Linked DNA regions of Homo sapiens. The protein of the gene in region 5 purifies or fractionates together with the protein of the main gene of each other region. This does not show direct contact. Each region holds a gene or a part of one and is shown on either strand. Other genes may lie near its edges. The genes, in order: ADGRG1, SLC38A10, TMEM132A, RPP30, EFNA2, POGLUT2 and XRCC1.

Evidence for each region.
Region 1: the proteins of EFNA2 (region 5) and ADGRG1 purify together in Homo sapiens (affinity purification with mass spectrometry; one large-scale study listed by BioGRID and IntAct). This does not show direct contact.
Region 2: the proteins of EFNA2 (region 5) and SLC38A10 purify together in Homo sapiens (affinity purification with mass spectrometry; one large-scale study listed by BioGRID and IntAct). This does not show direct contact.
Region 3: the proteins of EFNA2 (region 5) and TMEM132A purify together in Homo sapiens (affinity purification with mass spectrometry; one large-scale study listed by BioGRID and IntAct). This does not show direct contact.
Region 4: the proteins of EFNA2 (region 5) and RPP30 purify together in Homo sapiens (affinity purification with mass spectrometry; one large-scale study listed by BioGRID and IntAct). This does not show direct contact.
Region 6: the proteins of EFNA2 (region 5) and POGLUT2 purify together in Homo sapiens (affinity purification with mass spectrometry; one large-scale study listed by BioGRID and IntAct). This does not show direct contact.
Region 7: the proteins of EFNA2 (region 5) and XRCC1 purify together in Homo sapiens (affinity purification with mass spectrometry; one large-scale study listed by BioGRID and IntAct). This does not show direct contact.

What each region holds. Positions count from the first base shown.
Region 1 is NC_000016.10:57,656,130-57,659,629, reverse strand, and holds part of ADGRG1 (adhesion G-protein coupled receptor G1 isoform b precursor), read right to left. Parts: intron 3,405-3,500; coding exon 3,359-3,404; intron 3,117-3,358; coding exon 3,013-3,116; intron 2,258-3,012; coding exon 2,139-2,257; intron 236-2,138; coding exon of another isoform or gene 218-235; coding exon 1-217. UniProt on the Homo sapiens protein: Adhesion G-protein coupled receptor (aGPCR) for steroid hormone 17alpha-hydroxypregnenolone (17-OH), which is involved in cell adhesion and cell-cell interactions.
Region 2 is NC_000017.11:81,278,308-81,281,807, forward strand, and holds part of SLC38A10 (solute carrier family 38 member 10), read right to left. Parts: intron 2,427-3,500; coding exon 2,302-2,426; intron 1-2,301. UniProt on the Homo sapiens protein: Facilitates bidirectional transport of amino acids. May act as a glutamate sensor that regulates glutamate-glutamine cycle and mTOR signaling in the brain. The transport mechanism remains to be elucidated.
Region 3 is NC_000011.10:60,927,460-60,930,959, reverse strand, and holds part of TMEM132A (transmembrane protein 132A isoform b precursor), read right to left. Parts: intron 3,320-3,500; coding exon 3,101-3,319; intron 2,332-3,100; coding exon 2,000-2,331; intron 451-1,999; coding exon 301-450; intron 1-300. UniProt on the Homo sapiens protein: May play a role in embryonic and postnatal development of the brain. Increased resistance to cell death induced by serum starvation in cultured cells. Regulates cAMP-induced GFAP gene expression via STAT3 phosphorylation.
Region 4 is NC_000010.11:90,881,974-90,885,473, reverse strand, and holds part of RPP30 (ribonuclease P protein subunit p30), read right to left. Parts: intron 1-3,500. UniProt on the Homo sapiens protein: Component of ribonuclease P, a ribonucleoprotein complex that generates mature tRNA molecules by cleaving their 5'-ends. Also a component of the MRP ribonuclease complex, which cleaves pre-rRNA sequences.
Region 5 is NC_000019.10:1,284,470-1,288,672, reverse strand, and holds the start of EFNA2 (ephrin-A2 precursor), read right to left. Parts: upstream 2,801-4,203; 5' UTR 2,505-2,800; coding exon 2,365-2,504; intron 1-2,364. UniProt on the Homo sapiens protein: Cell surface GPI-bound ligand for Eph receptors, a family of receptor tyrosine kinases which are crucial for migration, repulsion and adhesion during neuronal, vascular and epithelial development.
Region 6 is NC_000013.11:102,792,477-102,795,976, forward strand, and holds part of POGLUT2 (protein O-glucosyltransferase 2 isoform 1 precursor), read right to left. Parts: intron 1,331-3,500; coding exon 1,125-1,330; intron 945-1,124; exon of another isoform or gene 943-944; coding exon 865-942; intron 1-864. UniProt on the Homo sapiens protein: Protein glucosyltransferase that catalyzes the transfer of glucose from UDP-glucose to a serine residue within the consensus sequence peptide C-X-N-T-X-G-S-F-X-C. Can also catalyze the transfer of xylose from UDP-xylose but less efficiently.
Region 7 is NC_000019.10:43,551,528-43,555,027, reverse strand, and holds part of XRCC1 (DNA repair protein XRCC1), read left to right. Parts: intron 1-223; coding exon 224-382; intron 383-1,344; coding exon 1,345-1,419; intron 1,420-1,515; coding exon 1,516-1,627; intron 1,628-1,936; coding exon 1,937-2,046; intron 2,047-2,119; coding exon 2,120-2,231; intron 2,232-2,752; coding exon 2,753-3,011; intron 3,012-3,340; coding exon 3,341-3,457; intron 3,458-3,500. UniProt on the Homo sapiens protein: Scaffold protein involved in DNA single-strand break repair by mediating the assembly of DNA break repair protein complexes. Negatively regulates ADP-ribosyltransferase activity of PARP1 during base-excision repair in order to prevent excessive PARP1 activity.

The DNA.
Region 1 (3,500 bases), on a different chromosome or scaffold from region 5:
GACCTCCACCACGAGTCGGTAGAGGTTGTACCCCTCGAGGCCCATCCAGGAAAGGCAGGTGAGCAGGGAGAAGTGCAGGAAGATGGCACTGGCTCGGCAGCCAGCCTCAGAGCCTGTCAGGGCCACCGGCTCGCTGAGCAGGAAGCTCGTGTCCAGCAGGAAGACGGCCAGCAGCAGGTTCATGTGCACCTTGATGGTGTAGTCCCGAGGTTTCCTCCTGCACGGCAGGGGCACCCTGGTGGGCCAGTGTGGGAAGGTAGAGAGGGGAGTGTGCCCACATCTCCTCCAGGAAGCCTTCCCAGACTGCCCCCCACCCCGACACACACATGCAGTCATACATGGCCCCTATCCTATTCCTGTGGCTGCAGCCAAACTGTTCCCCACATCCCCCTGTGCACCTACTGTGTGCCCAGCACCCACAGACTCAGGCACCACGTGCACGTTTAACAGAAGCCTCAGCCAGGCAGAGCGAGGAAGACAACCACAGTAATAAACCAGATACTCTCAAAGTCAGAGCGGAAACACTTTGGCATTTTCACCATGTTGGAGAATCCATGCCATCCACATTCTGTGTCTTCCCGTCTGTCTGCACAACTGTGCACCTGTGAGTCTGAGTGTGGGCTGCCCGCATCGGTCTGTCTGAGGTTTGCAAGTCAATGTGTGCACACCCCACCCCACCCCCACTCCAGGATTCTACATGGCCCTAGAGGGTGCAGCAGAACATGCAGGCCCCAGTGTCACCATCCTGGAGTCCCACCCTGCCCTGCCCCTAACTCATGGCACCATCTTCAGCTGGTCCCCTCCCCTTGAGACTCTCAGTTTGCCTATCTGTGAAGTGGGAGGATGGTACCCTCATAGGGTTGGGGTGAGAGTTACACTGACACAAAGCATCTGACACAGATAAGGTGCTCAGTTCCTAAGGGTTCCTGTGCTGTGTCCTTGGGCATGTTTGTGAGCAACTGGGTGTTGAGGACTTCTGCCTCCACCCCCAGCCTTCCGCCGAGCCCATCTCATCACCCAGCTGTCCTTCCTCATCACCATCACCTACTTAGCTCCCCAGGTACACAGCTGTGCACACACAGGACAGTCATATAGGCACACACGTGCTTGTGCACACGCATAAATACAGCTTCACTTTCCTCTCCTTCCTCGTGGCTGGGGACAGTGAGAACCGAGGGTGCCTCTCCTCTACCCAAATGGGTTCAGCGCTGAGGGCAAGTGGACCCCAATTTAGGCCAAGCCAAGCACTGACAATCTGACCTCTGCCACTTCCTTGCTGTGTGACCTCAAGCAAGTCACTTACCCTCTCTGAGTGTTCCTTCATAGGGCTGTTGTGAGGATGAATTGAGTTCACACATGTAAAACACTTAGAACAGTGCATGGCACACGGGAAGTTTGACACACGTTAAGTATGATCATTACCGCTGTGATATTATTGTGTCCACCCAGTGCTCTCACAAATCTGCTTATTCAAAGGCAGAAATGAAAAATCTTTCCTTTTTTAAGTTTTTTATTTTGCTTTCCTGTCTTACTCTAGGAAAGAAACAGATTCTTAGGTGGACTCTCTCAATTTTAAATGTTGACAATTAGCCTGGCACAGTGACTCATGCCTGTAATCCCAGCGCTTCGGGGGGCTGAGGTGGGTGGATCACTTGAGGTCAGGAGTTCGAGACCAGCCTGAGCAACATGGTGAAACCCCGTCTCTACTAAAAATATACAGATTAGCCAGGTGTGGTGGCAGGCGCCAGTAGTCCCAACTACTCAGGAGGCTGAGGCACAAGAATCACTTGAACCCGGGAGGCAGAGGTTGCAGTGAGCCGAGATCATGCTACTACACTCCAGCCTGGGCGACAGAGGCAAGGCTCTGTCTCAAAAAAATAATAATAATAAAATAAAAATAAAAATAAATAAATACAATGTCGACAGCTAAAATTTGTAAATACTATGTTATCCAAACACCACTGATCTGAGGAGGAGACGTGGCCCCCAAGGGTCAGCTTACCCCAAACAGCTCCCCTAACCACACACACAGTTCCAGGTCATGCGGGCGGGCCATGACCGGAGATGTGTGCGGCGCCCTGGTGGAGGTGTGTGCAATGGAGGGTCCCCTCCCCTGTCCCACCCCTTTCAGGCCTCACCTGGAGCAGAGGTAGGCGGCAATGGTGACAAGGCAGGCCAGGGCAGAGACGACACAGCCCACGTAGGAGAGGAGGCTCAGGTAGTGCTTGTGCACGGCGTCCACCTCCACCGAGGAGACCTGGCCCCAGGAGACAGGAGAGAGCTGGCCTCTGTGTCCCCCACACAACCTGGAGGCTTGCCCTGCGTGAGGGGCTAACCTGGGGTCCCTGGTGGGCCTCGGAAGCCTAAGAACCCCCTCTCCCAACTGAGCAGAATGTGGTCCCATAAGTGCATTTTTCTGGAGTGGGGGCATCTTTAGATTTGACCACATTCTCAAGCGGCTTCCTGACCCACAGAGGCCAAGAACCCTTCATGAGAGAACCCCTATTCTGTCCTGGCATTGATTATTCTTCTATAACATTTAACATGGGAATAGGTTTCCTGTGAGGGAATGAGATTCCCACACCCAGGGGTGTTCAAGCCCCAGGTGGATACCCACAGGCAGAATCCTACAGTCCTGGGAGCATGAATTCTGAGGTCTTGGGGGCACTGGAGGCCACCTCAGGGGCCTCATTAGAAACACTCTTGGCCCCATCACTGCCAAATCAGAACCCTAGGTGAGGGCCAGGAATCTGCATTTTCGTACACACCAAAATTTGGGAATAAAGAGCAGGGGCTCTACAAACCAGCTCTTTCACTGACTAGCTGTGTGGCCACGGGTAAATTGCTTAACCTCTCTGAGCCTCCATTTCCTCATCTATAAAATGGGACAACAATAGAAGCTACCTTGGAGAGCTGTTATGAGGAATAAATGACTGAATATATGAAAAGTGCTTGCACAGAACAAGCACACGGCCTGGGGTGTGGCTGCGAGGTGGGAGCAGGGACCCTCACCATCAGCACTGCAAAGTAGGTCAAGTGGTTGCAGAAGCAGGATGTTTGGGTTTCTCTCCTGACGGTCTCACACCCAGCACTGCTCCAATGCCCCGGGCTGCTCACTGAGGAGGGGACAGCACGGGGCTCCAATCAAGTCCAGTCCTCCAGGACCCCACTGTGTCCACCCCCAAAAGCACGACTGTGTCATTCTTCCACCCGGCCTACTCATAGCCTGCCATCGCTCTCTCTTCAAAGTCCTCCTTTCTCCAGGAAGCCCTCGGTGATTAACCCCACCTCCCCCACCCCCCAGGACTCTATTTCTCTTCCAGATACTTGTCCAGCCCAGAGACCCCTGCATACTCACATGTGGGGTCTTCAACCCAGAACACACATTGCAGAGTCACATTCTTCTGTAGGGACAAGAAAGGAGAGTGGTTTCTGTGACAGCCCCCCACCCCTCCAACTTTACAGGCCAGGCAGAGGAAGTCTAGAACACAGTCAAGCCA
Region 2 (3,500 bases), on a different chromosome or scaffold from region 5:
CGGGAGGTCGAGGCTACAGTGAGCTGTGATCGCATCACTGCACTCCAGCTTGGGTGACACAGCAGGACCCCATCTCCAAAAAAAAGAAAACCCAGCAGACTGACAAGTGAGAAGGTCCTGCCAGCAGCTGCTGGTGTCCCGTTGCCCAGGTCCTAGCACACCATCCCATCAGGCCGCCCTCAGCATGGAGTGCCATCAGCAGCAGTCAGGGGACCCCGCAGGACATGAGCCTTCCCCTCGGCCCAGGCTAGAAGGGAGCTAAGTGGCCAACGCCTGTGCACACAGCCCCAGGAGGCTGGCAGAGAATCAGGAGAAACACCCAAGAGGTCTCCACGGCCCTAGACCCACAGCTACAGAAGAAGGCCATGTTGCGGCATGAACTTCCCAGTGCTAAACTGTCCTCTCGCCACAGCTGAGTCCACACCAGGGAGTCTTGGCTTGAGGGGACCAGCGTTGGTGCCCCATGACACGTGCTTACCCCCAGCCCCCAATACACCCTGTGGGGAGTGACCCCCAAGGAAGCCACGGACACTGTGGGAAGGGGTGTCCCACGCACACGGGGTGGCCAGGGTGGAAGGCCAAGCCCCAGGCTCCTCTCCAATCCTGACCACCTACCCCAGGGACCCCCGGGATCATCCCTGGAAAGAAACAAGGTAGGAGCCACAAAACCTCCTGGCCACCTGCAAAGGAGCTCCACAGATGGGGGACATGCTGAGCGCTGGCCCATGGCCCCAGACGGAGCATCCCTGGCCCGCCCACCTTGCAAGGCAGCCTCTGAGCCTCAGGGCCTACCAGAGTCAAATGGAGCCATCCACATGCAGCTCTTGGGTGTGTGCCCCTCTGCCCTACTGTGAGGATGGGGACCCTGGTCTCCAGATAGACCCTGACCTCCAGGGCCTCCTGGGCTCAGTGCTGCCCGGCTGCTTCTCTGGGCCTAGGACAACCATTCTGCATAACCAGGTATGCATTTACCAAAAACGGCCAGATAGTGAAGGCACAAGGGAGACCTGGCCCCAGCTGGCATCCAGGCCAATCACACAGGCAGGGGGCGCGGCCCGCCACCCAACAGGGACAGGCACTCTGGTGCAGTGACGCTGTGGGAGGGAAGAGATGTCTCTGCTCTCAGAAAACATTCCTGGGTTCAGAGGTGGGGAGGTCAGCACGGCGGCCGGCACAGGGGTGGGGAGGTCAGCGCAGCGGCCAGCACAAGGAGGGATGTCCCTGCTGGGGAGAATGTCAGGTGAATCCGTGGGCCTGCACATCCTCAGGGCGGGACAGAAGGAAAGCTGCACTTGTTGAGCCGCACGCTCCAGCGCTTCAACCCAGCACCTGACTCCGGAACCAGACCCGAACGAGGTGCACCGGCTGCTACGTGGCCACCACCAAAAAGCCCCAGCTGCAGATTTATTTCTAAATATGCAAACACGCAGACACAAAGGGCAACTGGTAACTAGGTACGTGGCGGAAGAATGCGGCTTCTGTCACCGATCATAATGGGATATTAAACAGCAAGACTGGGGCGCGTTCTGGTGGAGATGGAGCTGCCAAGAGAGACGCTAAGTGGGAAATGACGATTTGGATCTCGCATGTGGGTGTAAACACAGCGGTATGAACAAATTTCATCTGTCACATTAGTTTACGATTGGCTCAATGCATGCCCACTAACGCTACAGGGGCCGCTCTGCCAGCCCCCCGCATGCCGATGGTCTTTTCCCGTCTGCGCCGGATTTACGCCTCTCTTTTCAGCCGGTTACCATGTTCCAACCGGGCACGAATCACTCGCTCTTGTCATTTTGGTGGAGAAGGTAATGCTGCTGGAATTATGGAAGAGCCCGATCCACATTTACAGAGCCCTGCGTGCCAGAGAGAAAGCAGGCTCGCGCGCACATGCAGGCCTCCAAATGCATCCAGCAGCCGTCTGAAGTCAATGTTTGTGCCATTTCCTTTTAAATATTCTCAGAACAGCTAAATTCTGGCGAAGCGCTCGACTCTGTGCAGTCAGATGGCTGGGTTGCTGCTGCATCCCCCACAGCCAATGCTCTGCTTGTGGGGATCTGGCAAACCAGGGACTCTCACCAGCTAGTCCCAAACATGTCCCAGGAATGAAGCCGATTTACCTCCCGATTAAAATATAACTATCTCCCTCAACCTGGGGCGGGAAAGGTCATCACTGAACAAGACATCACTCTTTAGCAGCCAGCAAAGAGCGATCACAGTAAACGAGAAAGAGAGGGTCCCGTCTCCCAGCAGCTCGCCCTCCCCGTCACAGAACTCCACCACAGACCACAGCAGGACACTTACGACTGGCAGGCGAAGGACATGCCGAAGATGGGGATGCAGCGGAAGACGCCCTCCCAGCGGACGTAGCTGACCCGCCGCAGCCACTGCCCACTGAAGAGGCCGTGCTTGAGAGAGGAGAGCACGATCTGCAGAGGGAGAGGGGAGAGAGCACGGGGCAGGTCAGGACGCAGGCGGGACTCAGCATCCCGGCCCACGCGCCGCTAGGAAGGAGTGGCAGGAGAGTGCAGCTCTTCCCACCCACATCCCAGCCCCCCACCACCCTGTGCCGCCCTGTGCCGCCTTGTGCCGCCAGCTGGAGGCAGGGAGACCCCGCGCCTTTCTGGATTCCCAACCCCTGCCTCAGAGCACCCTGGTTCATCCCGCGGGCACCAGAGCAGCTGCTCTTGCAAGGGGGCTGCTTGGCGCAGACGGGAGGAGACCACTGAGCATGCATGGCCCCAGTTTCCGTCGGTTACAGAGGCTGGTTTCCCACGTGGGCAGGTCCCTCCCCATCTTGTACTGTGTTAGACATGGACATTTTCCAAAAGACTGGCCCACCAGGACGCGGCTGTCTCAAGAGTAAAGAGGTAGCTGCCACTGGGCTGGCCCTCACTCGGAGAGCTGAGGAGCACTGGAGACCCTGGCTTCAATGACCACCTGGCCTCGTCCTGGTGCAAACCCGCTGTGAGACACCCAGGTTCCAGCCACTCAGGAAGGGTCATTTCTGACCTTGCCAGGGAACAGGAAGGTCCCAGGGGCTCGGGTCCTGGGGCTCCTATGGGCAGGGGCCTGGCAGAGAATGGAGGGTGTGCTGGGGGCTCTGGGTGGTATCCGTGTTCTCAGTGCCAACTCCACAGCTGGCCCCTAGTCCATCCTATTATAAATTCTCATTTAGAAAAATAATAGCGGCCGGGCGTGGTGGCTCATGCCTGTAACCCCAGCACTTTGGGAGGCTGAGGCGGGTGGGTAACAAGGTCAGGAGTTCGAGACCAGCCTGGCCAAGATGGTGAAACCCCTTCTCTACTAAAAATAAAAAAAATTAGCCAGGTGTGGTGGCGGGCACCTGTAATCCCCGCTACTTGGGAGGCTGAGGCAGGAGAATCACTTGAACCCAGGAGATGGAGGTTGCAGTGAGCCGAGATTGCGCCACTGCACTCCAGCCTGGGCGACAAAGTGAGACTCCGTCTCAAAAAACAAACAAACAAACAAACAACAATAGC
Region 3 (3,500 bases), on a different chromosome or scaffold from region 5:
GGGATGGAGTAGTGGCTATGAGGGCTCTACCTGGGGCACAGGATTGGTTGGCATCTCTTAGAATAAGACTCACAGACACTTGCTATGCCTGGCACATGGCTGGGGCTGGGAAGATAGTGGCCGAATGAATGAATGAAGGAATGGATTATGCCTGCTTTGTGCTGCTTCCTTGAAAAAATCTGTCCTTGGGTCTGCTCACCTGGGGATCTAGAGGCAGCATGGCAGCCTCCAAATCTGCTCAACTGCACTCTATAACCAGCCCTCCCTCCTTTGCCCCCTGGGTGGAGGGAAACTGCCCACCTGGAATCTGGCTCTGTGAGCCCAGCACGGTGGCAGGTGATGAGGGTGGTGTGGTGCCTGGAGCCCTTGAAGCGGTCCAGCTTGGCAGTCCAGAGTGTGGGCTGGGCTGGGCGGGCGGCTGTCACATGCAGCCCCTTCTTCACCTTGATCCTGGGGAAGAGAGTATAGGCTCAGTTTGGCAAGGTGCATGCTGAACTGTGGGCTGGATTGAAGGGGAAAGACAAGGAGCCAAAGCCATCTGACCTCCCTGGCTCCAGTCTGAATCTCCTCTTCACCATCCTCCAACCCAGAAGGACCCCGCCTCAGTGCAGCTCACACCTTACAGCTCTCCCCCACCCAAAGACCACTTACGCCTCCCCACTGCCCATAAGGTCAAAGCTTAGCCGGGCATTTGGGGGCCCTCCAGGGTCTGGTCCAGCCTTAACTTCGGTTGTGACATCTCTCCATGCACTCTCTGCTTCAGCTACACACAAGTTTCCCACACACACGGCACCCATTCGTGACTCCAAGCCTTTGCCCAGTCTGTGCCTTCAGCCTGCTCTGCCCTTTCTTACTTTACCTGCTGATGCTTTAAGCCTCCAACAACTCACAGACCATTTCCTTTAGAAAGCTTTTCCAGTGGTGGGATGAATTTCCCCCTTACTGCACCCACTCACCTGAGCTCCCACCGCACTTTGAACCTCCCTCAGTGCTTACACACCCACATGCCTTCTAATCCAATTCATGCCCATCCAGCTCCCTTCCCTACCACTGGGGCCCCTTTCTGCCAGATAGGGACTGGCCCTTGCTCGTGTTTGGATCTGCAGAGTGAAGACACAGGGCTTGGCAGGCTGTAAGTGTCTAGGAAAGATCTGCTTAATAAGAGTGAGCATAGGAGGGCGTAGGAGATGGGGAGACACAGAGACGGGACATGCACAAACCCAGGCAGGGCTTGAAACTAGGTCTAGGTTTCAAAGCATGTCCACAGACCGCTCTTCGATCCTCAGGAAAGATATCATTACAAAGTGAGCAAGTCCCAGTGCCTCACCCTAACCAAGCCCAGGACTATCCTGCCTAGAACTCAGGCTTCTCAGAATCTTAAAGCCTAAGAGATGCCTCTCCCATGGATTCCTGCGCTGGACTCCAGAAGCAAGTCATACTCTGCAAGCCCTTGCCGGGTGAACTGGGTAGGTGGGTGGGGGCTGCTTTGGGGGAACTTATTACGGAAAAGGACACAAAGAATCAGGGCCTTCCTATGGGGAAGAGCAAGCTCTGTCCAAAGGCTAGACTCCTACGGCGAGGGTGGCAAGGAGGGACAGCATGTAGGTGAACGTGATTGGGGCAAATATCCCTCTCTGGAGCACTGGAGCAAGAGCTCACACTTAGGTACTGCAGTCTCTAAGCCCTTTGCGGGTTCCCCTCCCTGGAGACTTGCAGCTGCCCTGAAGGTGGACCGTTAGCCCCATTGGACAAAGGAATCTCAGGGAGGTGCCAGGGGAAGGGGCAGCTTCCTACTTCTGACTCTAATTCCAGGGCTGTGCCCATGGTGGGCTCCTACCAGCACAGTCATGGCTTTTTACCTGGAAGGAGTTTAGTTTGGTGGACACATGTTTTGCAGAGGTCAAGGATTCCAGCAAGGACCCCAGGAGGAGCAGGTACCTGTCCCTAGTCTTCCCACAGAGGTTCCCACCCTCACCCATCCCCGTGGCCTGGTGCTCACCGCAGGGTCAGGAGGCTGGCTGTGAAGTTGTGCCGAAGCAGGAGGGTAGCACTAAAGAGCTGGCCGGGCCGCACTGGCATGTCAGGCACCCGCAGAGTCACAGCCTCGTCCAGAGGTACCTCCTGGTACTGCGGGGGGTCTGCTGGGCGCAGCTCCACACCCCCCACTGGGAGGGCCTGCTCCCCAGGGTCGTTCTCCTCGCCGGAGCCACAGCCCCCAGGGCCCTCAGCTGCAGGCTCAAGCGTGTAGGCCAGCTCGGCCCGTGTGGTGGAGGCCTGTGAGAACCAGTGCGAGGGAAGCTCCAGCTCCACCACGCAGGCGCCCAGGGATGGCTGTGAAGACACGACAGCAGTAATTGGCATGGGGGTGGGTGCAGGGCGAGGAACAGGATTCTCAGCACCCATGGCAGGAAACCCAGAGCTGGAGGGGCTCATGAAAGGGAGGCCCAGCATGGGCCGGAGACACAGCCTGAGTGACACAGCAAACCAGCAACCTGGCTGGGGCTTCAAACCAGGTCTAGGTTTCAGAGCATGTCCGCAGACCACTCTTCAGCCCTTGGGATAGGTCTCATTACAAAGTAAGCCAATCCCAGGGCCTTACCCTAACCAAGCCCAGGACTATCCTGCCTAGAATCCAGTCTTCTTCTCAGAATCCTAAAGCTCAAGAGACGCCTCTCCCATGGATTCCTGTGCTAGACTCCAAAATAGTGGAAATAGCAATTATAAAAGTAACACTACTAATAATGCAAACACACTGGCTGATTGATTACTCTGCCGTAAGCTATCCTTACATTCATCTCACTTGTTCCTTACTCCAACTCCAGATGGGGTAGGAATTCTTAACACCCCATTCTTCAGATGAGGAAACTGAATCTCAGAGAGATTAAGTTACTTACTCAAAGTCACACACCAAGGACTGAACTCCCTCTGGGGCCCTAAATAACCTTTTCACAGCACTGAAAGCTAGTGGGGGCAGAAATGGAGTCGGGTGGTCCACAACCCCCGCGCTTCCCAGGAGTGGGGGTTTCCTCTCTGCCGCGGGCCCACCACCTGGCTGATGCAGCTGCAGCAGGACCAGCCTAGGTGGGGCCTGTCTACTCACCTGGAAGCGGCAGGCTTGGTGAGCAGTGCCGGCAGGGTGTGTGGCATGGAGCCGGGCACAGGGCAGGCTGCCAGACCCTGGTGGCCAATCCTGCCCTTTGAGGTGGAAGAGAACCCGGGCGTAGGGCTCTGCTGGAGTCACAGCCGCTTCCACTGAAACGGCCCGCACGTCCCATGGGACTGGCCGTTGGTGGGGCTCAGTGACTCGAGGGGGGACCACCTGGAGGGAGAATGAGAGGGCTTAACAAAAGAGGAGCTTGGGAGGGGAAGATCTAGGAAGATGGGATCCCAGCTTGGCAGAAGAGAACCTTTATGGGCCTCAGTTTCCCCCTCTGGAATATGGGGAGCACAGCCGGGGCTGGGGAAGGCTCCCAATTTGTACCCAGCAGACCTCAGGCCCT
Region 4 (3,500 bases), on a different chromosome or scaffold from region 5:
GAAGAAACTGACTATTCTAAAACCCAAGGAAAAAATAAGCCAAATGGAATGTATGCATAGTCCATTTATCCCACACACTATTTATTGAGCAACTCTGTGCCAAGAATTGTCCCAGGGCTGTGGCTCCTATCAAGTCTACTGAGTAGCTAAAGAAATATGAACACAGCACCTCATGACATTTGTTCAAATACTAATAGAAGGAATCTACATAAATAGTTAAAGCAGAGCTACTACAAAGCAAATGATAATGAATGCATTTTCTCAACTTTTAATTTCCCTTTCTGTTGTTTTAATTTTTGCTATGACTTGTTGAGTAATACTCTGCATTTTCTTCTCAAAGAGATTTGAAACTGTTTATGAAAACCACATACAAGATAAAATAAACAGATAAGAAAATCAGGATAAATGGAAAATCAGGGAAGAAAAATAAAGCTGGGAAAAGGTTACTAGTGTAGAGGGCAAGCCAGAAGACACTGCTGGAAGAAACATACCTGGCTCTGATTTTGCCATTATTTGATTTATAGTGATAAAAATATTTGGCTGTTATGTATTACATTAAAAACAAAGCTTACTGACAATGCTAGTGTGTACAGGCTTGACAGACAAATTCAAACTTCCAGGATGGCTACGCTGACAAACAACATCAGTGGCATGTACCAGGGGAAAGGGCAGAGTAAGGAAGAGTGGAGAAAATGACCTATAGGATTGGTGCCAACCTTCGGCAATGACAGGAATACCGTATCTTGCCCTTTTTCTTCAGAATCCCCACTTCAGTCACTCCTACTCCAACCCCAGGGCTTTAGGAAGTAGAGATCAGAGGCTGGCTAGCTTTAAGACAGTCATAGTAACTTAGTAAGCCTGGGAAGCAATGTTGTTTTGGCAGAAATACTTGGCTCATAAAGAATCTGCCCCATCCCAACTGCCACAGCTGTCCAACTCATAAAAGAGTCACTGAAAATTTAATAAGAGTGGATGAAGAAAAGCTCTGAATGATAGCTGAAACAAATTCAGCTCTGTTCACCATTTTTTATCGATCATACTGGCAAAGATAAAAAAGTTTGGTACTACCTTGCTGACATGAGAATGAATGAACAGGCACTCAAAAGGTCTTTAAATCAGTATAAGGTCTTGAAAAGCATTTTAGCAATGGCTACCAAAATTTTAAATGCACACACCAACAATTCTACTTATAGGTATGTAGTAGGTATAAGTGGAGTCTCCTATAGAGAAGTCTCTATAAGTGCAGAGACTCTAAAAATATATTACGTAGCTATATACCCTACAAAGGCTCAGGGGACATTAGTACAATGACAGTCATTGCAATACCAATCATGAAAGACTAGACACAATTAAACATCCCTCAATTTTACTTCAATTATGATCCCTTTATATGATGGAATATGCCAACTCATTAAAGGAAATGATGTACATCTCTAATGGATATTATGGAACAACCTCTAAGAAACTGTAAGGTAAAAGAAGCATGGTGTTAGGTAGGAAGGAAAGAGGAAGGGAGAAAGGGGAGAACAAAGGAAAAAAAGACGAGGTAAATAATATTTCTAAAAAGATACACAAAAACTATTACTAGTGGTTGCTTCTGGAAAAAATGGGGAAGGAATTTTAGGTGGAAGTAAGGCATACTTTTCAGTACCTTTGTACTGTTTAAATTAATCATTGTGAATGTAAATTATTTCTTCAGTTTAAAAAGGTGATTAATTCTTTAAAAGCCTGTTAAACATTCTCCCCAGAATAAAGCTAAATTAGGTTACTTTTTACTTACACATTGTTCCTTTCTTCCCTTTTCCTACATAAGAGTGGCCAATTAAACAATGGCTCTATGTTGGTTTAAGTACGTGCAAATACATGCATTATAATAAACTTTTAGTTACAAGGGACAGCTCCACATGGCTCCCTCTGACACTTCAACCTTAGAATGCCCCAAACTGAATTATTTTGTTATTTAGTTTTCTATTAACCAAAATGTTCAATCAATACTTTTAGATAACCACAAAATAAAAGTTAATGTTCACACTACAATGAAACGCTTTCTATATCATTTTAGAAGATTAAATTATGCCCAATAGAGCCTTGGGGTTAAGAATCTTATAATGGTTTTCTCTGAAAACTAGTAGGTTACATAATAATTCACATCAGTTGTCCATACCAATTTTTTTTTTTTTTTTTGGCCAGAGACTCCTATGACAATTTAAAGAAAACGTATTCCCATAAAAATGCACACATATATACACATCTTTGCCTCTATGGCACAAAAGGAATAGGACTGTAGGGGTTCATATTCCTCCCTGAATCCCTTTCAAAGGTATCAGTTTGATAAATTGTGAAGAGACAATCAGGCTTACCAAGGAAAAAGAGAGATGCCCATCAACAGTGGCACTCAACTTTAATGTGTACAAAACTCCCCTAAAGAATGTATCAAAAATGGAGACAACCAGGCCCTACCTCCATTGATTCATTAAGTATGGCCTAATGATCTGCATTTTAATAAATATCCCAGGTAATTCTAAAGCCAGTGGAGCCAGACCATACTGCAAGTAACACCAGGACACTCCCTTCCTCAAGACACTACAACAGTCCTCTGCAAAGGAAAGGCATGAATTTCAGGAGCAGGAAGAAAATAAAACTTTTATTTCCATTTACTTTTATTTTTTAAAAATAGAGACAGGGTCTCACTATGTTGCCCAGGCTGGTCTTGAACTCCTGGCCTCAAGTGGTCATCCTGCCTCGGCCTCCCAAAGTCCTGGAATTACAGGCACAAGGCACTGGATCCAGCCTCCATTTACTTTTTTCTTTGAGACGGAGTCTTGCTCTGTCATCCAGGTTGCAGTGCTGTGGTGCAATCTTGGCTCACTGCAAGCTCCGTCTCCCGGGTTCACACCATTCTCCTGCCTCAGCCTCCTGAGTAGCTGGGACTACAGGTGCCCGCCACCATGCCTGGCTAATTTTTTGAATTTTTAGTGGAGTCGGGGTTTCACCGTGTTAGCCAGGATGGCCTCTCGTGATCTGCCTGCCTCGGCCTCCCAAAGTGCTAGGATTACAGGCGTGAGCCACCATGCCTGGCCCATTTAATTTTTAATTCACTATCTTAAGATCTGTTTTGTGTGTATGTAGTTTTTATAAGGCACACTGGTATAATGAGAGATGCGAATAATTTATAAGAAACATATATATATTTGGAAGCAGGCTCAAAAATTTTTTAAACTGATAGGGTGCACAATCAAAGCAGGTTAGAGACCACTGGACTAAATAACCTGAATTCTCCTCAACCTGCTCAGCTGCTTTAAATCCTAAATGGGAATAATTAATTGGTCCAGAAGCTCCAGAAGCTTCTATGCAACTCTCTCTCTGTGTCATATTCCACAGCTGTCCCCCATCCCAAGGAGCCCTAACCAATGGACCCCCTCAAAATCTTTAATCTCTGCCTTATCTCCTTAAGTAGCTATGGAGAGGGAGTTTCTATGAGACATCTTCCGGATACTCTG
Region 5 (4,203 bases):
ATCGCCTGGGCACAGGTGCCAGGCCAATGGGCGGAAGGGGCGGCCGGCGACGCTGCGGCACTGCCCGGGCCTGCAGGCCCCATCGAGCACACGGTCCCCTGGTGCCCACGCTGCTGTCTGCCCCCCATCGCGGCTGTCCCCGTCTCCAGTGCCTTTCTGTATGCCCCTCTCAAAGACTTGGGGTCCCCGCATCCCCCACACACCTGCCCGACCCCATCATCCCTCCCCGGCCAGCCCAGCCTCACACCTTAGGCCTGCCGGCTGACGCCACTCCTCTCCCCAAGCCGATGTCCCCTCCACAGGGTCCCCTTGGATACGGAGGCCCAGCACCACCCCCTGCTGTGCCTGACACCCCCGCCACTCAGGCACAGGTCCCGGGCAGGTGCCCCTGGACACCAAATCTGAGAACTGCAGAGACCCCTGATGTCCGCGACAAAGCCCTGATTCTGGCTGGATCCCGGCTTCCCGGGAAGGTGCTCACCCAGCCCTGGGCCCCACTGCAGGGTGTCGGCTCCGTCCCCAGCAACCCTGGATACCGCAGGCAGGAGAGGAAGGAGGAGGCAGCCTCGGTGCTGCCCAGGTCGGCTCTGCGGACCAGCAAGGCCGTTCCCTCAGGCAGCGGTTTGAGCTGGGCAACCAGGTCAGACCCGGAGCAACAGGAGGTGGCTGGGCCAAGCCAGGCACTGGGGAGGCCACTTCCTTCCCCTGGCCGGGGGTCCGGCCCGCAGCCCACAGCCCTGTGGCAGGTGGGGCAGCAGGACGGCCCTGGTGACCACCTTCCTCCCCCGGTTGCCGGGTCCTCGTGTGTTTGGCGTTTGCTAGAACAAAGGACAGGCCACGCTGGGGACGGGAGATTCCGCAGCTGAAACCAAAAACTTGGGCCGGGGAAGCGCTGCCCGCTGGACTCCCCGCACGGCCAGCGACAGCCTTAATCAAACCCACATGTGACCAGCACAGCGGGCGGCTCGGGGACCCGCTCTGAGGTGGGCCAGCCGTCCCCCAGCGGCCCGGGGTCCCTGCCCTCAGCCCCCAGGGCCCGACCCGAGGCCGTTGACCAGGGTGGGGGGTGGGCCTGTGCGTGTTCCCCACCCCCACGGCGGAACACGGGCCGCCCTTGTCCCCGAGCCCGCCTCAAAGAGACCCCTTCATGCAACTTTCCTCCCGGGGACCGAGGACAGCAGGAGACAGAGGGGACAAGGAGGGGTGGCGGGCTCCAGAGGGCGGCTCGGTCGGCACAGGAAGCGGCTGGAAAACGGAGAGAAAGTGACCAGTAGCAGAAGAGTGGGGGGGGGCCGCCTCAGCCCCCGATGTGCAGCTCCGTGTGCCTTAGGAAGACGGTGACACCCTGAGTGCTGGGGCTGACTCCCTCCCGAGCCCCAGGACCCCCAAAGCCCCGGCTCCCACGGGACCCCCAGGGAAGCTGCAGCCTGCTCCTGTCTTGGAGACCCTGGGATGGTTCAGAGGGTTCTACCCACGTCCAGGCCATGGCCAGGCCCCGGCAAACTTTTTTTGCTCTGACCAACGGGGGCTTCTCCTGTCCCCCACGTTGTGCCTGGCCCGGACCTGGTTCAAAACAAGGGGGCCTGCAGCAGGCGGGTGCGGCATCTCGGCCGGGCGTGGCAGGCAGGGCACTGGGCCACCTGGGTCCTGCCCCCAAGTCCCCCCCTTGCATGACCTTGAGCCAGCTCCTCATCCCCTCTGCACCTCAGTTTCCTGGTCAGCGCCCAGAGGACAAGAGAGGACTCCATCCCACTGCCCCTCCCGGGGCTGACCCCCAGCTCCCCGGCCCCTCAGTCTCCTTTCAAAGCTGGGCCCTTGGCCCCCTGGAGTGAAGCAGATGCTGGGTCCTGAGGGAGGGACACTCCAACTTCCCCAAGTTCATCTGGGGACCTGCGGGCAGGACGAACCCAGAGATCCCTCGAGGGCCACAGTCCCCCACCTCCGGTGCCAAGGTCCCCGGGGATCCCCACCAAATGCGAAACCGAGGGGGCTCCCCAGAGAAGCGGGTGGATCAGGGGTCCCCCCAAGTCCAGGCAGGCAACTCAGGGGCTACCCGGCATCGGAGGGTACCAGAGGGGTTCCCCAAACTCCAGGAGACGTCGGCGCTCTGGGGGATGTGGGGCGCGAGTCCCCACAGTCCGTAGGGCAATGGGGCGCCCCGGGGAAGGCAGGCGCGAAAAGGGCGAGTCCCCCAAACTCCGGGGGGCCGGAGCTCCCTGGGGGGCTCCCGCGGGAACCGGGCGCCCGCATCCCGGCGGCGGCGCGCGCGTGGGGGGCGCCCGGAGCTCCGGGGGCGCGAGGCCGGGCGCGGCTTGGGGGGCGTTGGGGGGTCCCCGGGCGCCCCCCGCGCGCGGCCGCGCTCACCTGGGGTTGCTGCGGTTCCAGTAGACGGCGTAGCGGTCCGAGTTGGCGCGGGCGGCGTCCTCGGCGCGCGCGAAGGGCGGCGGCGGCAGCGGTAACAGCAGGAGCAGCAGCGGGAGCAGCGGGCGCTGCGCGGGCGCCATGGCCCCGGTCCGGCCGCCGCGCTCGCTCTCCCGGCCGCCGCCTGCCAGCCTTCTCCGCCTCCTCCGCCGCCGCCGCCGCCGCCGAGCGGGCGGGCGGAGGGCGGGCGGGAGGAGGGCGCGGCGGCGCTTGGAGATCCCGGGCCGCCCCCGCCTCCGCGCGCGCGACCTCGGGCGCCGAGAAGTCAGGCGGCGGCGGGGCGGGGCGCCGGGGTCGCCCCGGGCGCAGGACCCGGCCGCGCGGACTGTCGGAGCGCGGGCCGCCGCCGCCGCACCCGCCGGGGAGGGGCCCGGGCTCCGGCCTTTGTCCCGCCCGAGCGTCGGGAGGGCCGCGGGCGCCCCCTCCCGCCGTGCCCCGGCCGCGCGGGGACTGGGCGGGGGTCTCCAGCCTGCGCCCGCCCCCTGCCCCGGCCCACCCCGTCTCAGGCTCGTCCCCCGGGGCCTGCCCCCAGCGACCCCGATTCTGCGCGCCCCCCGCCGGCATCCGCGTGGCCCGGCCTGGGGTCTCCGAGGGGCGGGGGCGCACCCTGCCTCCCGCGCCCCCACGCGCTCCACCCGGCCCGGCCCTGGGTCCCGGGCCTCTCACCTGCCCGGTTCCAGCGCTATCCGCAGCCTCACCAACCCCGACGCACGCGTCCCAAATCGGGCTCGGCCAACTCCAGTCTCCCTGCGGGGGCCGGGGCAGAGTTTCAGAGGGGCGCTGGCCAAAGTCCAAAGCTGCTCGGGCTGCGACCTCCCTGGGGCCCTCCTGGGAGTCGCCTCTCCGGACCCACGCTGTTCCCTGGGGATGGAGTAAGTCCCTACACCTCAGCCCTAAGGGTGCCGGGAGCATAGTAGGTGGACCGATGTGGAGTGTGAGCAGCTGGGGATGGGATCCAAGAAGCCCAGAGTGAAGCCCCGGCCGACAGCAAATCAGTCTCCACGCACGAATCCTGCAGGCAGGGGAGGGCCGCTGCCCGGGGGCACAGCTTGTGCAAAGACCCGGGGTCTGATCTGTTCAGGGAACGCCGAGTGATTTCTCCTCCTGGTAGGCTGACACAGGTGGGGAACTGGGGGCCTGGCCTCTGCTTTGTCTTTTTTCCAATCTATAGAGACAGTGTCTGGCCATGTTGGCCACGCTGGTCTTGAACTCCTGGGCTCAGGCGATCTTCCCACCTGGGCTTCCCAAAGTGCTAGGATTACAGGCGTGAGCCACTGCACCTGGCCTGCCCTCTGTTTTTGCCCTTATTCATGCCACAGCCTCCCTCACCAGACTCTGAGCTTGTGGAGGGTAGGCTGTCATCAAACGCTGGCTGGACTTTGCTGGCGATGCCCAGATCGTGTTGTACGTCTCTGAATTAGTGTCATTCACCAGGCCCAGTGCAGGAGAGGGAACTGCAGGGCAAGCACCAACAGCCCTTGGACCCGAAGGTCCCTGTGTGAGGCATTACCCAAACTCCTGGCAGGGACCGTGAACCCAGAGATGGGCAAGCTAACCTGTGCCCCAGCAAGGTGGGGTGGGGACCGGACCCACCACCGTCCCACAGCTCTGAGACGTGGTGGGCTCTGTCCTGTGTCTCCTGCGTGCCCTCCTCCCCCGATTCCCCAGCGGGCCACGCGGGCCACACCACCTGACCTTTGTTCAGGCTGGGTCCTGCTGGGAAGTCCTTCCACTTTTTCTTCCTGTTAAAATCTTGCTCTTCCAGAAAGGTCTGTCCCACCC
Region 6 (3,500 bases), on a different chromosome or scaffold from region 5:
CCTGCAAAAGATATGCTGAAGTCTTAAATCCCAGTGTCTCAGAATGACCTTATTTGGAAATAGGGTTGTTGCAGATATTAGTTAGCATGAGGTCATACTGGAGTAGGCTGGGCCATTAATCCACTATGCTGTGTCCTTATAAGAAGAGACCCAGAGACATGAGGGGAGAAGCCCACGTGATGACAGAGGCAGAGATGGGAGGATGCAGCTGCAAACCAAGGAACACCAAAGATGGAGGGCCACTGACAGCAGCCAGGAAGAGGCAGGAAAGGAAAGGAAAGGATCATCTCAGAGGGAGCTGGCCTCCTGACACTTTAATTTTTTTTGGGGGGGGACAGGATCTCACTCTTGTCACCCAGGCCTTGGGAGTGCAGTGGCGTGATCTCGGCTCATGCAGCCTCGACCTCCTAGGTTCAAGCGATCTTCCTGCCTCAGCTCCCCATTAGCTGAAACTACTACAGGCTAATTTTTGTATTTTTTGTAGAGACAGGTCTTCACCATGTTGCCCAGCCTGGTCTCAAGCTCCTGGGCTCAAGTGATCCACCCGCTTTGACCTCCTAAAGTGCTAGGATTACAGGCGTGAGCCATGGCACCTAGCTGACACTTTGATTTTGGACATCTGGCCTCCATAACTGCCAGAGAATACATTTCTGTTATTTTAAGGCTTCCAGTTTGTAGCACTTTGTTACGGCAGCCCTAGGAAACAAACGCAGGTACCTGAAATAACAGAAAGCTTCAGAATAGTATTATCATAAGGCTCCAGAAGAGAATACCCTGATAGTGTATAATTTGTATTTTGAAAAATTATCCTGTAAAATCTGGGCTTAAATTATCTATTACAGCTAAGAGAAAATATATACTTACCTTTCTAGTCAAAGAAAGTAGTATGGCATCCATGAAAATTCTAAAACCTACATGTTCACCATGAGTCTTGATATAAACCTAAAAGAGAATTTACCATTTATTATGTTAGTCTAAAGACGCTGGCAGACTTCACTGAGGAAAAGCTTGTCACAGTGCTCATTCGAATGATGTTTATAAAATGATTTAGCTAATTGTAGCCAAATGTTCAAAACAAGAAAAAAAATCACTAAAACAAACAAGCAAAAAATCATGTGTTGTACCTTGTTATCCTTTAAGGTGTAGTGACATAGGCTCTGCCTCTGTCCAAATCTTTTTGGGATTTCTACTGCAATCTTTTCTGGATCCACAGCAGGGAAATGTGCCAGATCTCTCTGAATCTGAGCAATGGTTTCAGGGCAGTTCATCTCCCGTAGCCAGGCTGCACTATCTTGCAGAGGACAGTCACAGTTCTCATGGTAAACCGGCCCTATTTACATAAGAATAACAAAGTACAACAGTGATCATTTCACTCAGCATTCGAAACTTGTAATAAACATCTATAATGTGGCTTCATGAATTTTGCTTAGTTACATAGGAAGAGCATTTTCATTGAAAACACATTTTAAGAGAATTACAGGCCAGCAAGGTTGGCTCATGTCGGTAATCCCAGCACTTTGGGAGGCTGAGGCAGGAAGACAGCCTGAGCCCAGGAGTTCGGGAGCAGCCTGGGCAACACAGGGAGACCATGTCTCTACAAAAAATAAAAAATTAGCTGGGTGCGTTGGCATGCACCTGTGGTTTCAGCTACTTGGGAGGCTGACGTGGGAGGATCACTTGAGCCCAGGAGGTTGAAGCTGCAGTGAGCCATGTTTGCGCCACTCCATCCTGGGCAAGACAGTGAGAGCCCGTTTCAAAGAAAAAAAAAGTAATACATTTTTACTATACTGGGGCATTGCAAGTAAGTCAGCCTTCTACTCTGACAGCTCTTCACAGTGAAGTTTTGTGATATTTTCATAATAATAAGGTCTACTTTGCATGAGTTCAAAAGAAAGGAAATAGAGGCTGGGTGCAGTGGCTCACGTCTGTAATACCAGCACTTTGGGAGGCTGAGGTGGGTGGATAACTTGAGGTCAGGAGTTTGAGACCAGCCTGGCCAACATGTTGAAACCCCATCTCTACTAAAAATACAAAAAAGTTTAGCTGGGTATGGTGGTGTGTGCCTGAAATCTCAGCTACTCAGGAGGCTGAGGCATGACAATAGCTTGAATCTGGGAGGTGAAGGTTGCAGTGAGCGGAGATTGTGCCACTGTGCTCCAGCTTGGGGGACAGAGTGAGACTCTTGTTTCAAAAAATAAAAGAAAGACAACAGATACTTGGTTTATGTCTATGGTAATATTACAGCTCATTATTCCTTATGTTTTGCAGACTGAAGAATAACCAAATACTGGTAAAAGGGTATCAGAGGAGCATACCTATTTTAATGAAAGACAAAAGTGATATGATTTACTATTTTGATGGTCTGTTATACAAACAGGTTCTTAAAGTGTCTAAGGTACTTTTCTCAATAAGTAAATCATCAATAACAGCAAAAATAAACAAGGAACTGCTATTCTTTTTTTTTTTTTTTTTAAGAATTATTAAGGAGGAAAAGTAGGCTGGGTTCTTGGCTCATGCCTGTAATCCCAGCACTTTGGGAGGCTGAGGCGGGCGGATCACGAGGTCAGGAGATCGAGACCATCCTGGTCAACATGGTGAAACCCCGTCTCTACTAAAAATACAAAAATTAGCCAGGTGTTGTGGCGCGTCCCTGTAGTCTCAGCTATTTGGGTGGCTGAGGCAGCAGAATCGCTTGAACCCGGGAGGCAGAGCTTGCAGTGAGCCGAGATTGCACCACTGCACTCTAGGCTAGTGACAGAGCGAGACATCGTCTCAAAAAAAAAAAAAAAAAAAAAAGCAAAAGTAGCTGGGTACAGTGGCTCACGCCTGTAATCCTAGCACTTTGGGAGACTGAGGTGGGCAGATCACTTGAGCTCCAGGGTTCGGGACCAGTCTGAGCAACATGGCAAAACCCTGTTTCTACAAAAAATACAAAAATTAGTGGGGCATGGTGGTGAGTGCCTGTAGTCCCAGCTACTCATGCAGCTGAGGTGGGAGGATTGCTTGAACCCAGGAGGTCGAGGCTGCAGTAAGCAGTGATTGCACCACTGCACTCCAGCCTGGGCAACAGAGCGAGACCCTGTCTCAACAACAACGGCAACAAAAAGAAGCAAAAGTAATTCTCAAAACAGTCCACTTCACTAATTTTATAACAAATTAATTACAGTCTGCACTGAGGTTTTTACTGTTATTCCTTTTTATAATTCTCAGATCCCACCTAACCCAGGCAGTGGCTGACAATGGAATATCTTTTTAAGGTTTAGTGGGTGATACTGTACCAGGCTGTACTGGCAGAATGTAGGAAAGGAACCTAGACACTCTTGAAAAGTGTTTACCTTTTCTTACTTCTCTGCAGAGTTCACAAAAATAAAAAAAAAAAAGTTTACTTTTCTTGGGGTTGTTAAGGGGGGGACAAGATTTCTGCCTTTGTATATACACTGCTTCCCTACTGTCTTGTGGTACTGTCGCCTGTAAGAGGGAAGGAGATGGCTCTAGGTAAT
Region 7 (3,500 bases), about 42 Mb from region 5:
GTCGCTCACATCTGGAGGATAAAGAGATCCCTCTGGGGCCTGTGTCAGGGCAGGACTGACTCAAGGCCTAGAAACAAAGGGTCTGGAGACATCTAGGCCCAAGCTACATTCTAGTGACTCCCAGTCCCCTGTGTGGGCCCTGTGCCCTCTTCCCCAGCCCCTAGAAGCTCTCATCTAAGCCAACCTGCCCTGGTTCTCATGCACTGTGGCTTCTCCCACCCAGGTCCTTCTGGTCACCTCATCTTTCATGTCCCCTTCCGAGAGCCGCAGTGGCTCAAACCCCAACCGCGTTCGCATGTTTGGGCCTGACAAGCTGGTCCGGGCAGCCGCCGAGAAGCGCTGGGACCGGGTCAAAATTGTTTGCAGCCAGCCCTACAGCAAGGTACCTAGGGTGGGAGCCAGGGTGCAGAGTCCTTGGTCCTGGGCAAGGAGGGAAATAAGGGCCAATATTGAGTCCCATAGGGCTGGGAGGAGTAGACAGCTGGTGTCCCATGGGATTATGGGGAGGCTGGGTCCCTGCGTTCCCTGAAATGGGTTTGGGATCTTTCCTGTAATGAGAAGTTTCATCTCCCGGAGGAATCTAGGAAGGGTGAACTGCAGCATCTCAGAGGGGAATCGGAGGAGGGGAACTGACTTGTTAGAGAGGTGGCCTAGTAGAGTGGGCCTAGTAGTTAACATCAGGAGATCTGGCGTCTGATTACTGAGTTCACGTCCTGGCTATACCACTTTTTAGCTGTGTGATCTTGGGCAAGTGACTTACGCTCTCTGGGCCTCCATTGCCTGATCCTTACAGGGTTGCTGTAGGTTAAGGGATGCTAAAAGCTGTGGTAACAGTGAGACTGGAGTATGTGATGATGCCACACACTAAAGGTGTGCTTCTTGCCCAGGTAACTGTCCTGGGGAGTGTTTAGCCTGTCAGCTGGCTTCTCCTTATGAGGTCGTGCAGGGACCCAGACTTCTCCTATTTTCTGGCTCTGCATCCAGCTGGCAGAGGAGAGAGCCTGGAACACTTCTGTGTTCTGGAAGTGGCACGCAGCACTCCCTCCCATTCCACAGGCAGGAGTTTGTGCATAGGGCAGTGAATTCGCTGGGACACCTAGTAGACTCTGCCAATTGCCCAAAGAGCTAATGCGTGAAAAGGGCTTGGAGCCAGACTCAGAGTTAGGGCTCAGTCATAACAGCTTAATCCTATAATTGTCATCACCATCGCCAGGGCCCCTCCTTCAACATGGGTGTTCATGAGAGGGAAGGAGCCAGGAAGAGGTTTCCCTGAGTGAAAAGGGTCTTGGGCCCTGGCCTCTGTCCTTGGGCCAGACTCCCTGACTCCCACCCCTCCTTTCCCAGGACTCCCCCTTTGGCTTGAGTTTTGTACGGTTTCATAGCCCCCCAGACAAAGATGAGGCAGAGGCCCCGTCCCAGGTAAGCTGTACCTGTCACTCCCCATGGCCTTCTCCCTGCCTCTCCACCCCCACCTGCCAGCAGCCCACCTATAATACTGACCTTGCGGGACCTTAGAAGGTGACAGTGACCAAGCTTGGCCAGTTCCGTGTGAAGGAGGAGGATGAGAGCGCCAACTCTCTGAGGCCGGGGGCTCTCTTCTTCAGCCGGATCAACAAGACATCCCCAGGTGAGCTCGGACAACGTGGGTCCTGAGTGAGTAGGGTTGAGACCTAGACTCGTGGGTCTGAGGGTAGAGGGGGCTGGGGCTCAGATTCCTGGGTCTGAGGGAGGAGGGTAGTGGAGTCCTGGACTCCTGGGTCTCAGGGTGGAGGAAGGTGGGCCTGGCCTCTTGTGTCCTGAGGGTTGAGAGGTCTGGAGGCTGGGACTCCTGGATCACTGGTGGGTTTTGGCAACAATATTCTGTGTCCCATAGATAGGAGTGAAAGGGTCTTGGGGCTCAGCCCTCTCATCCTGGATCCACTTTCTCCCTTCATAGTCACAGCCAGCGACCCAGCAGGACCTAGCTATGCAGCTGCTACCCTCCAGGCTTCTAGTGCTGCCTCCTCAGCCTCTCCAGTCTCCAGGGCCATAGGCAGCACCTCCAAGGTGAAATCATCAGACTTTGGTGGGGTGGAGGAGGAGAGAAGCTGGAGGCCTCAATCCATCCCCATCCCCTCAGCCCCAGGAGTCTCCCAAAGGGAAGAGGAAGTTGGATTTGAACCAAGAAGAAAAGAAGACCCCCAGCAAACCACCAGCCCAGCTGTCGCCATCTGTTCCCAAGAGACCTAAATGTGAGCTAACTAGATCCCTTGTTTCCACAGGGGCCTGTGCTCCTGTGTCCTAGGGGAAGCGGGGCTGGAGCCTGCTGTCCTGAATCTGAGGGAGGAAGGGCTGGGGGCCTGGACCCCTGGGTCTGAGGGAGGAGGGGCTGGGGGCCTGGATTCCTGAATCCGAGGGAGGAGGGGCTGAGGGCCTAAACCCCTGGGTCTGAGGGAGGAGGGGCTGGGAGCCTGGACCCCTGGGTCTGAGAGAGGAGGGGTTGGGGGCCTGGATCCCTGGGTCTGAGGGAGGAGGGGCTGGGGGCCTGGACTCCTGGGCCTGAGGGAGGAGGGGCTGGGGGCCTGGACTCCTGGGTCTGAGGGAGGAGGGGCTGGGGGCCTGGACCCCTGGGTCTGAGGGGGGAGGGGCTGGGGCCTGGATTGCTGGGTCTGAGGGAGGAGGGTCTGGGGCCTGGACTGCTGGGTCTGAGGGAGGAGGGGCTGGGGGTTGACCCCCAGTGGTGCTAACCTAATCTACTCTTTGTCTTCTCCAGTGCCAGCTCCAACTCGTACCCCAGCCACAGCCCCAGTCCCTGCCCGAGCACAGGGGGCAGTGACAGGCAAACCCCGAGGAGAAGGCACCGAGCCCAGACGACCCCGAGCTGGCCCAGAGGAGCTGGGGAAGATCCTTCAGGGTGTGGTAGTGGTGCTGAGTGGCTTCCAGAACCCCTTCCGCTCCGAGCTGCGAGATAAGGCCCTAGAGCTTGGGGCCAAGTATCGGCCAGACTGGACCCGGGACAGCACGCACCTCATGTAGGCTTGCGCCCCCCTCCCTGCGCCGCTGCAGTTTCTCCCCCAGCTCCCTGTGTCTCCTCCACCTTGTGCTTTCTCTGTGTCCACTATGCTGCATGCTTTCTCTCTCTCTCACTTGCTTTCTTTCTCACTGCATTCTGTAGCCTTTGTCTTCTCTCTGATTTTTGCATCTCTCCCTTGGTCTCCAACCTCTTTTTGTTTCTCCCACCTCAATCTCATGATCTGTCTGTCTGTCTGTCTCTCTCTCTCTCTGTCTGTCTCCCCTGTCTCGTTCCCCTTTGCCCCTCAGATCACACCTAACTGGCATCTTCACTTCTGCCCCCCACCAGCTGTGCCTTTGCCAACACCCCCAAGTACAGCCAGGTCCTAGGCCTGGGAGGCCGCATCGTGCGTAAGGAGTGGGTGCTGGACTGTCACCGCATGCGTCGGCGGCTGCCCTCCCAGAGGTAAGGCCTCACACGCCAACCCTGCTCCTTATCCTGTGCTGGG